Regions from separate parts of the Homo sapiens genome. Here region 2 is linked to region 1. Evidence: fine-mapped expression QTL. A gene starts in region 1. The other region holds a variant in brackets. All regions are shown on one strand. Distances are from middle to middle.

Region 1 (5,394 bases):
AATAAGCAAATTAGTTCCCGCTAAATAGCCAGAAAGCAAAATTGTCCACAGCAATAATGGTCACCAAAAGATAGCCAAATCTCATCCAGTAGAGAAACTGCTGAATCAAGTGGTAGTTAGACTTTTAGCTCTTTATGGAATCTCCACACTGTTTTCCATAGTGGCTGTATTAGTTTCCATTCCAGCCAGCAGTGTAGAAGTGTTCCCTTTCACTGCATCCACACCAACATCATCTATGATTTTTTTATTTTTTATAATGGCCATTCTTATGTGAGTAAGGTGGTATTTCATTGTGTATTGCATGTTTATAGCAGCAAAATTTACAATTGCAAAAACGTGGAACCAGCCCAAATGCCCATCATTCAAAGAGTAGATAAAGAAACTGGTGTATATATGTATATACCACACACACATATATGATGTATACCATACATACATGCATATATACCATATATATGCACCACATATACACCATGTATTTGATGGAATACTACTCATTCATGAAAAGGAATGAATTAATGTCATTTGCAACAACCTGGATGGGATTGGAGACTATTATTCTAAGTGAGGTAACTCAGGAACAGAAAACTAAACACTGTATGTTCTCACTTATAAGTGGGAGCTAAGCTATGAGGATGTGAAGACATAAGAATGATACAATGGACTTTGGGGACTCAGGGGGAAAGGATGGGAAGCCAGTGAGGAATAAAAGACTACTAATTGGGTTCAGTGTATACTGCTCAGGTGACGGGTACACCAAAATCTCACAAATCACCACTAAAGAACTTACTCATGTAACCAAATACCACCTGTTCCCCAAAAACCTATAGAAATAATAAAAAAGAATATGTTTAATGAAGAATTAAAAAAAAAATAACTGATGCTAAAAGGACCTGCGAGCAAAGAAGGTGGTACACATGAATAATTTCAAACATCTGTAGAAAACACACACAAAAATAATGAGTAACATGGGGGTCAAAATCATGATAAACTAAAATACTTGACAACAACATGTAATGTGCTAAAGGGTAGGGCACTGATAAGAGTTCACCATTCCAGGATTCTTTTATTATTTGATGATAGAGACATAATTAGCATTATACTTTGTTAAAATATTAATGGCGGGTCATAAAGGATATAAGAAGGATGCCTATCTCTGGACCAGAAAAAGAAATGCAAAATTATAGAGAAAATGTTACTATTTTAAAGGAAGGTAGAACAGCAACAAAGTGAAGAATAGACATAGAGAGGGGATTTTTAAAGTTCCAATTAGATGTTAGGAAACTCCCAGATGTATCAGTGAAAAGTTAAGTTCAGCAGTTAGAAGGTATGGGTTTTTAGATTGGGAAAACTATACATAATGATTTAATTTGGCCCTAACTTTCTGAAAAGCACTGAGTCAATGTTTATCAATAATCTCAAGTTGATTTACCCTTTTTAGCTAAATAATAGCACTTCTAGACATTTATCCTGAAGTCACCAGAAATTCAATTAAAGAAATATACACAACCAAACATTACATGGACACTCAACACACACATATGTAGAAAATATGATATTCTAAAATCACTAAAATTATGTCTTAATATTCAATGTCATGAGAATGCTTATGTCATAGTGCCATGGAAAAAAAAATAAGTTTCTTAAACCCTTTGCCCAATAAGGTTAGCTTTCCTTTTCTGCATAAGAAGATGAAAATAAATTGTAAAAACGTTAACAGAAGTTATTTCTTGATGTCGGATCATTGGCAGTCAACTTTTTTCTCATAATAAACTTGTGATATTATAATCATGAAAATCTACCATATTTGTCAGAGAAACATTGTTATTGTATAAGGTAGAACTCAGAAAGTACACCTCGAACATACTTCATATGTTGTATAGTTCGGTTAAGGCCAGCACTGTCAAGGTTATTTAAATTTCTTGTACATTTCTTATACATGCACATTTCTTTACAATTTTACATGCATGTGCATATGTGTGTGTGCAAATGCATATGAATTTTATAAGAATCTTGAGGCAGTTAAAATTATCAGCATCCCCTGTTGACTCATTAGGAGACTGAATGTTAGAGAGATTTTCAGTATCTTGGTTTGTAGGACTTTACCTGGTGCTTTTTAGATTCTGTGTTCACTGTGACAGTATCTCAAAATATGTACAGAATACTGATATATGTCCTAAATATGTGGATTTATTTCTATAAGGATACTGAACAACAATCGTAATGGTCCAGTTTGGTGAGTATGTAGATATGCACGCGACCACCTCAGTCTCAGTTCACACATTCCCACTGCTTATAGGAGCACCAGGGGCAAACAGTGTCCAGATGTGAGTCCTCAATGAGCTATAACCACAGCCATAAATATCTCTCAAAGATGAGGAACATTCTCATGATGTTGACACTGCAATTTTTTGACAATTTCCCAACACTCTTAAGAAACATTCCCCAATCTCACACGAAAAGTGGGGGTTTTAATTTTCTTGTTCAACTTCTAAAGAGAAATTGGAGAAGATAAAACTGGACACTGGGGAGACCACAACTTCATGCTGCGTGGGATCTCCCAGCTACCTGCAGTGGCCACCATGTCTTGGGTCCTGCTGCCTGTACTTTGGCTCATTGTTCAAACTCAAGGTACGTACCATCACACCAGCATTTTACATAAAAGTCAAATTATTTGATGAATGTTTAAAGTGCCTTTTGAAAAAAAATGGCATATGTTTTTATGGTCGAAAGACCATTACCATTTGCATTTTGGTAGATTTTCTACCTCTCTGCAAAAGCGAACTATATATACATAAGTATGTGTATCTTTTTGAGTGAGGATATTTTAAACCACTATATGAAACATGGATTCTAAAATTTGTCCTATTTCCTCCAATTGTTATATATTTTAACAAATTTTATGTTTGCACAATATTTTCCAAAATAGAGGAAAAAAAAGCTACATATTGTTCCATTCATTATGTCTTTTCTCTACTAAATAAAATTTTATTAACATCTTCATGAATCATGGCTGTTTAAAAAATCTGCACTTTGGGATATTTCCTTGAGAAAAATTCTTAAAAGCAGAATGACAGGGTCAAAATGACTAGTTCTGGAAAAGGAACCCTTTTTGTCTTTGAGATTGATTATTGATATTATTGATAGATGAACCATTTTGATGACACACTATACACACCCTACAAATAATTTTCAAGTCACTGGTTATTTTACTAGTGATCACATAATAAGCATGTTAAAAGCCAAGCTGTAAACCTACGTATTTCCATGTATAAACACATTTGTGCTAAACCCTATATTGAAACAGGTAAAGTACATAGCTGAGGAGTTATCCAAGCTCCCCACAAAATTCCCACTTGCCTAAAAGTTGCCGTGCAAAAGCTGCACACATACGGCTGGCTCTAGCCTTCATATTCTTTTACATTTCCTCATTGTGCATCACCAATACTATACCCAAAAGAAGGATAAAATGGAGTAATTATTATACCAATAATTATGCGATATATACACACAGCTTACTGAAGTCTTCAAATTCAATTATTTGATCCATATAAACATATAAAGACAGGCTTATAGTCAACACTTTGTAATTTGCATAATGATTTAGTAAGGATGTCTCTGGAACTGTATTTCTTATTTAATAACTCTACTAGATCTATTTTCTTTTCTAAAACACACCATCCCAATGACAACACAGAACTAACTTCCTGGCCAAAAATCAAATCCATGTATTTAAGACAACTTCCGAATCATAGCTCTGCTAGGATGAAAGACAGAGAAGAGTTTAAAATAGAATGAGGGCTAAATCATATATAACTGCATTATTAAACAAAAATCAGATGTAATACATTATAATTGCATTATTAAACAAAAGAAAACATTAATTGACCAACTGAACAACTGTGCCTGTGCTGTCGGATGAGAATTAATTGTACCTAAAGAGAAGTCAAACAACATGTAATGAAATAGAACTTGATTGAAATAAAAAAAAAAATCTACATATCTTTTTTCCCCCCATTCCTCAGAGGTCTCAAAATACTCATAGATACATTTCTAGAAAAGTGAAACTTGTTTCTATTAATATTGTTCTCACAATATTCTGCTGAAAAAGTCACTGAAATACTTCTGAATTTGATGATAGTCTATGATGCCCATAGTGCCCAAGTAGCCCTACATTTTTAAACATTCCTCCCTATTACTTTAGATAACCCAATAGTTAACAATGAAAGCTATTATTTTGGAAGATATTCATTAGGTTGCAGTTAACTATATAATTTTATACCTGGTAATGTTCTTATGTTTACCCATACACAATCTTATCTGGTAAATTATTCTTCTTTCAATCTCACAACTTTCTGGAACTTCCATAAAATCTTACCATCATTTTTAACAGTGCATGAAACAATCATTTTCAAACAAACTTGTACTCACTGAACTGCTAAGCAAAATGAACTTCAGCATTACATTTGTATTGCTTTATGTGTATAAAACCACGCCAGAAGTTTCTGGGGGAAATGGGAGGGATTGCAAGAAGGTTTTACTTGGCGTTCTGCCATATTCACCAATCTACTGCTCCTTGTCCCTATATGATCAGCCTTACCTTCTGCTCCTCTATCTGACCTATCTGTGCTGGCTTAACACCTCCATTTGTCTTCTAGATCTTATCCCTTCTCATACAAGGACATTGACCTAACATTTTCCCTCCTTCCTACTGTATCTATTCCATATTCTCTATGGAATCATTCCCATCAGCATATAAAAATTATCCCAACTTAAAATGAATATCCTTTTTCTTTCTCTTCTGCCAATTAACATCCTAAATTTTCTCTCTCCTGCCGGGTCTGTCCCGCAGACCCTGGCTGACCGATGAAGTGAGTACTCAGACACAGGTATGCAGTGTAAGAGCAGCTAGCTAGAGCTGCCTGGCCCTAGTGGCCAGAGAGCAGCTGTTATGTTTTGCCAGGCCAATTGATTCTGGTTGGCTTGTTGTTCCCACAACTCATCATATTCTGTTCACCAGAGGGGGTATTTACTGGTCTCTAAAGTTGTTTTAGCTAGCACTGACCAGTCCCATGGGGTCATATGGAAGTTGTCTGCTATGGCCTCAGTTAATCCTTTCATAAATGGGCTAGTGGCTCTGTTTTCTCTAATGCTTTTTCTTATTTCTTTAGAAGTGTTGAAAGCAATGAGTTCACGTACCTGATTGTCTTGTTGATCTTGCATCACTGGGCAGGTCAAGAGCTCCCTTCTAATTCCACTTGACTAAGACAGGGTCCCATAACAGTAGTGTATCCCTTGTATTTTTTCCAATATATTGGGAGAGAGGGCTCAGGGAAAATATTTGTCTCCTCTGTGGCACCTTTACTCGGTAACGGCGGGGCTGAGGGAGAAGGA
Region 2 (5,366 bases), 34 kb before region 1:
TATACTTTGAGAGCGTATTATTATATACATACAAGTTTAGAGTGTTGCTTCTTCCAAATTAATGAACAGTGTATCATGATGAAATGGTGCTGTGTCTATCTAGTACACTTCTTACCTTTGAGAATATACACTTCCTGGAGACCATATAGCTGTAACGTATTTGTTTTGGTCTGTATTTGCCCTGAAATAACATTTTTCCATATTTTCATTTTTATCCTTTCTGAATCACGTTTTAAGTCTTTTTTTCTTTTATTAAAGAAAGCATGCACATATAGTTTTTAGTAGTACTCACATCTTTGGTTTTTGTTTGTTTCTTTAACTGAGGAACTTAGTCCGTTTAAATTAAATGTAATTACTGATGTACTTGGGTATAAATCCACAATTATATAGTTTCTATTTGTCTTTCCTGTTTATGTTCCCTTTTCTCTCCTTTCTTACTTTCTTATAGACTTATTGATTTTATTATTTTATTAACTTGGATGTTATGCATTTCTTTTATATTTTAATGATTACCCTAAAACTTCCCAATTCATTTGCTTTTTTAAAAAAATAAACTTAACTTACTTTCTTTTGTAGAGCAGTTTTGGGTTCACAGCGAAATTGAAGAGAAAGAACAGACAGTTGACATATACCCAGCAACTCCCACTCCTGAACAGCTTCCCTCACCATCAACATCCCCCATTCTCGTGGAGTATTCGTTGATGGTAACAAATACTCCATAAACCTACATTAACACATCATTATCACCCCAAGCCCACAGTTTACATTAGGGTTTGCTGTTGGTTCATTTGCCTTTCATTTCTTTCTGCATTTCTGAACTTTTATCTAGGATTATTTTCTGTCTCTCCAGGTCCTTGCCCACTCACTAATCTCTACAAAGTAATTTTATCTAACATTTAAGTACTTTTATACTTTTAGGATGCTTTTGTTTGCTTGTTTGCAAAAAATTTAAAGATTAAAAGATTATTTTTAATGGGCAGGTTGATCTCAATTTCCTAGTCCACCATTACCAGAAACAAGAAGAGGCTGCACTTACTCTTCAGTGATTTCTATCTTCACCTGCAAACCTTCCGTTGTTATACTTCCATCTGTCCTGTGCCCCAATTTTAGCTCCAGACCATGTCTTTTCAAGTTTGGTGTGTTTGTGAAGTACTGCCAAATTCCCATTTATTTCTCTGATAATATGTCATTCTTCTGAAAATAGTTACAGTTCTGATATTAGTGCAAGTAAGTGTATGTTTTTCATTCTGAATGTATCTACACTATAACAGAATGCTTCACTGTTTTATTTTCCTTTGACTTTTTGGATTGGAATCTTATGGAGGGTGGCGAGTAGCGAATATTTGAACTAAAGTCATTGTCTTACCTAGAATTCTGCTTCTGATGTGTCTACCTCTATCTGCATGTGTGTGTGTGCTCACACTTGTGAACTTTTCTTGCATTTATACAAATATTAATCATGCTATTGGTTTGCTGATTTCTGTAATAAGAGAACGGTAACTTTTGGCATTGCTTTTCAATCTTTTCCTTCCTGGTCTCTTGTGGTTTCAGATTATTGTAAGAGAAATGAACAGTTAAGAGCAAAAGAGTGAAGTTATATTCATTATTTAAATTTGTCAGTACAAGAAAAAACACCATGGAGGCCCAGGAATATTTGTTCAAACCATTTCCTCATTCTCAAGGTCACATAACTTCCTGTCTAATTCCAGTGTAGACCAACATCAGTGGAACACTCGATTATTTGTCTTCTTAGTCACACCTCAGCTTCTTATTCACTAATGACAGGAATGTATTTTCAAAGTTTTAGTTTCTTTTTCTCTGTTTTATTCCAAGACTGCTTTTCAAAAATGTTTCATTTCTTCTTTGCCATCTTCCTTACTGTATATTCTCTTCTAATCTCCCAGCTCATTTCCCAGTTGTTACAAACATTATCTAAGTATTCTCAATATTATGATTTTTAACTTATTTCATGTTAAATGTTTCCTATAGATTTCATGTGTATTTATTCTACCTAATATTAATATAATTATCCTGATCAAAATACTTTTTCATTTTACTGGCTATGGGAATTTATGTTCATTGGAGAAAAGGGTAGCTGGAATATGTGCTAAGTAAAGAAACAAGGACTAGTGTGTTGTGCAGATGTGTGTTTCTGCAGTCCTCAGCGGGCCCCTGTTCTCTGCTGCAGACTTCTCCATTGTGGTTGGGGTGCTGTTCCCAATGGCGGTCATTTTTGTGGTGGTTGCTATGGTAATCCGGCACCAGAGCTCCAGAGAAAAGCAGAAGAAAGATCAGAGGTGATCCTTTATCTTATCTTGCTGTAGGGACTCTTTGACCCCTATTTTACTTTACTTTAAATTCAATGTATAACCTATCCTTTCAAATTGAATTGGTTTACTTCTAATATTCAGAAATACATGCAGATGGTCTTTTTGGACGAGAAACTGGGTTTCCCTTTAACTGAGAAATCCTTCACATCTAGAAATGTTTTTTGTTTTTCCTTCTGTTAGTCACCGTAGTTATAATAATAAGAGTGATATTAACTCTCATTATGACAGATTTTTTGAATTTGTTGTAAGAATATAATATCTAACATTATTTGATCAATATACGATGAGCACTGTGCTAAGCACCGCCCCACCCACTTTTTTTTGAGACAAGAGTCTCCCTCTGTGGCCCAGGCTGGAGTGCGATGCTGCGATCTCGGCTCACTGCAACCTCCACACCTCCCAGTTTCAAGTACTTCTCCTACCTCAGCCCCGAGTATCTGGGATTACATGCACATACCACCACACCGGGTTATTTTTGTATTTTTAGTAGAGATGGGGTTTCACCATGTTGGCCAACCTGGTCTCAAACTCCTGACCTCAAATGATCCACCCACTTTGGCTTCCCTAAGTGCCGGGATTACAGGTGTGAGTCTCCACACCCGGCCGTGTGCTAAGCCCTTTTATATCTATTATCTTATTTACACTTCACAAGAACTTCATAAAGTGGTCATGAGTTTCATTTTACAGATGAGAAATGTTTTATGCTAACCCTTACACAATTTTGCAAGGTTAGGAACTTCACATTTTGATGGATATAGAAACAAGCTCAGAGAGATTATTAGCAAACATGCTTTCAGTCTTGCAGAGTAAGTGGTGGAGGCTGGGTTTGTCTCACGAACGTGATTCTGGCACAACGGTGTTTTTTTTTTTTTTTTTTTTTTTTTTAGCACTTTTAAAGAAAGACTTATTTACTCATGATGAGTTTTTTAATATTGAGTAAGACATTAATAAAACAACATAATTTAGATAAAATTTGGATTCAACACTATCATTTTTAGAAGTCAGGGGTTTTTGGAGAAAAAAGAAAACTAGTAGTGATTATGAATTACAAGGCAATGAAAGAGGCTGACGGGGAAGTAAAAACTGA[C/T]CCAGGGAGCAGATAAAAACCCAGGCAATAGGCAAGAAAGACACAATGGGAAAAAGAAGTTGGGAATCTTCTACGGAGTTTCCCTGTCATGCTGAAGGAGCTGCTAAGTCAATTGATATCATGTGTTTCTCTCTTACAGGCCACTATCTACCACTGGCACCAGGCCACACAAACAGAAGAGGAAACCCCAGATGGTAAAGGCTGTTCAACCCCAAGAGGTGAACTATATAGTCTGGGCTGTGATTACCATGGCCCCACTTTGCGTTTCTCTCACACTCTTATCCTGACTACCTATCTATCATTTCTACCCAGCAGCGTTTTGCAGTAACACATTCAGAAATGTCTCCTTTGCCTTTTGTTAAAGGCAAAAGAGTCCCTAAAATGCCGAGGCTACTTTGCCGGGGTTCATGAAATGCAAACAGAATAAAGAGAACAAAGAATGCACATACCGGATGTCTGTCTGTCTCTCTCTTTGTCTCTGCTTCATTCTCTCTCCCTCTCTCACACACACACACTCCCTCTAGCTTATTTCTTTGCAAATTGACAAAATAGATACAAAAATATGTATGTCTGTATGATAATACATGTAATATTTATAACCCAAATGTCCTACTCATGTCCTGTAAATTTAAAGATTTTAGCTGAAGTTGGTTAATAACATTGGTAATCATTTATAACATTGGTAATCATTTTTTGATGAAAACTTTTCATTACAGCTCTGGGAAATACTTCTATGGAATACGCCAGCAGGACCACTGTGATTTTCTATCTGGTCTCTTGGTGTCAGCTTAGTTCCAAGCTTCCATGCCTTGAAAAGTGCTTACTTAAAAATTACTTAAAAACTGTGCTTATGAAACTAATGGTTCATTTTGAAATATTCGTTCTTCTTTTCAGATGAGTCAGATGAAGCCCCATGTGTATGATCTGCCAGTAGAAGGCAATGAGCCCCCAGCCTCTTTTGTGAGTTAGCAACTTCTCTTAAATACCACCCTAGTTCAATCTCCAGGAAATATCGGTGAAAGTCATAGCCCACAACACTTCATTATTTCTTCAGGACAATATTGAAATCTATGTGAATATTAATATAAAATACAAATTCTTCTGCAAAATATTTTGAAAATATAAAAAAATGAACATGTATGTCACTCCATGCCAACTTGTGACAAGAAGAGGACTAATCTGCTTAATAGAGTACCACTGTTTTCATCAGCTCAGGCTGCTGTAACTAAATTAACATAGATTGAGTGGCTTAAACAACAGATATTTACTTCTCACATTCTGGAGACTGGGAAGTCCAAGTTCAAGGAGCTGGCAGATCCAGTGTCTGGTGAAGCGGCCTTCTGGCTTGTAGACAGCTGCCTTTTTATTGTATCCTCACATAGCAGAGGGAGAGCATCTCTCTTGTGCTTCTTCTTATAATGGCATTAATCCTATCATGAGAGCTGCACCCTCACGACCTCATTATTTCCAAAAGGCCCCACCTCCAAATACCATCATTCTGGGGATTAGGGTTTCAACATATGAAATTGTGGGGTGACACAAACATACAGTTTATAGCAATCATCTTTATCAGATACCTATTGACATTGGACTTAGGTCTCAACTGTGTATGTACAACTAAATGAAAGCAATCAAACTCATATTTTACAATATTCTCATGGGTGGGGTCATGGCTTCTCCATTTCTGAAAATGATTTAAGTCTTTTCTTTATGCACGCCTATTTTCAGGACCCTATCTTTGAATGTAAATGTTTTATCCTTTTACTAGCTAATTACAAAGCCAGATTTTCCACCACCGCCAATTCCTGCACCTATATCATCTTCTTTGCTTGTAAGTATCAGATAGTCATTGGTGAATTTTTAATCTCTCACCTGCTCATTGCAAATACTGTCTCCACATCCATCGGTTATCAGGATGTGTACTTTTGAGGTTAACTTGAAATATCACA

Which allele goes with the higher level. Alleles are on the strand shown, and positions count from the first base shown. SD is a standard deviation of normalised expression in the study named.
For the expression in subcutaneous fat of the gene that starts at base 2,324 in region 1, T is the low allele of the variant in region 2 and C is the other (small effect, 0.27 SD a copy in GTEx).

What was found. PIP is the estimated chance that this variant, and not a neighbour inherited with it, causes the effect.
Region 2: its variant is the best candidate, but not a certain one, in a credible set for the expression of ADAMDEC1 in subcutaneous fat (GTEx, PIP 0.88).

What each region holds. Positions count from the first base shown.
Region 1 is chr8:24,381,962-24,387,355 of GRCh38, forward strand. ADAMDEC1 (ADAM like decysin 1) reads left to right here and starts at 2,324. Exons shown (of 14, transcript NM_014479.3): 1 at 2,324-2,631. The coding sequence starts at 2,544. ADAM7-AS1 (ADAM7, ADAMDEC1 and ADAM28 antisense RNA 1) reads right to left here. Exons shown (of 6, transcript NR_125808.1): 3 at 5,200-5,380. RefSeq lists an enhancer at 5,192-5,394.
Region 2 is chr8:24,347,676-24,353,041 of GRCh38, forward strand. It overlaps ADAM28 (ADAM metallopeptidase domain 28), which reads left to right. Exons shown (of 23, transcript NM_014265.6): 19 at 2,189-2,297; 20 at 3,557-3,635; 21 at 4,312-4,377. All of the region lies in intron 3 of ADAM7-AS1 (ADAM7, ADAMDEC1 and ADAM28 antisense RNA 1), which reads right to left. Among named protein-coding and RNA genes, the nearest start is that of ADAMDEC1, 34 kb to the right of the region's middle. The variant C/T (reference allele first, on the strand shown) is at 3,418.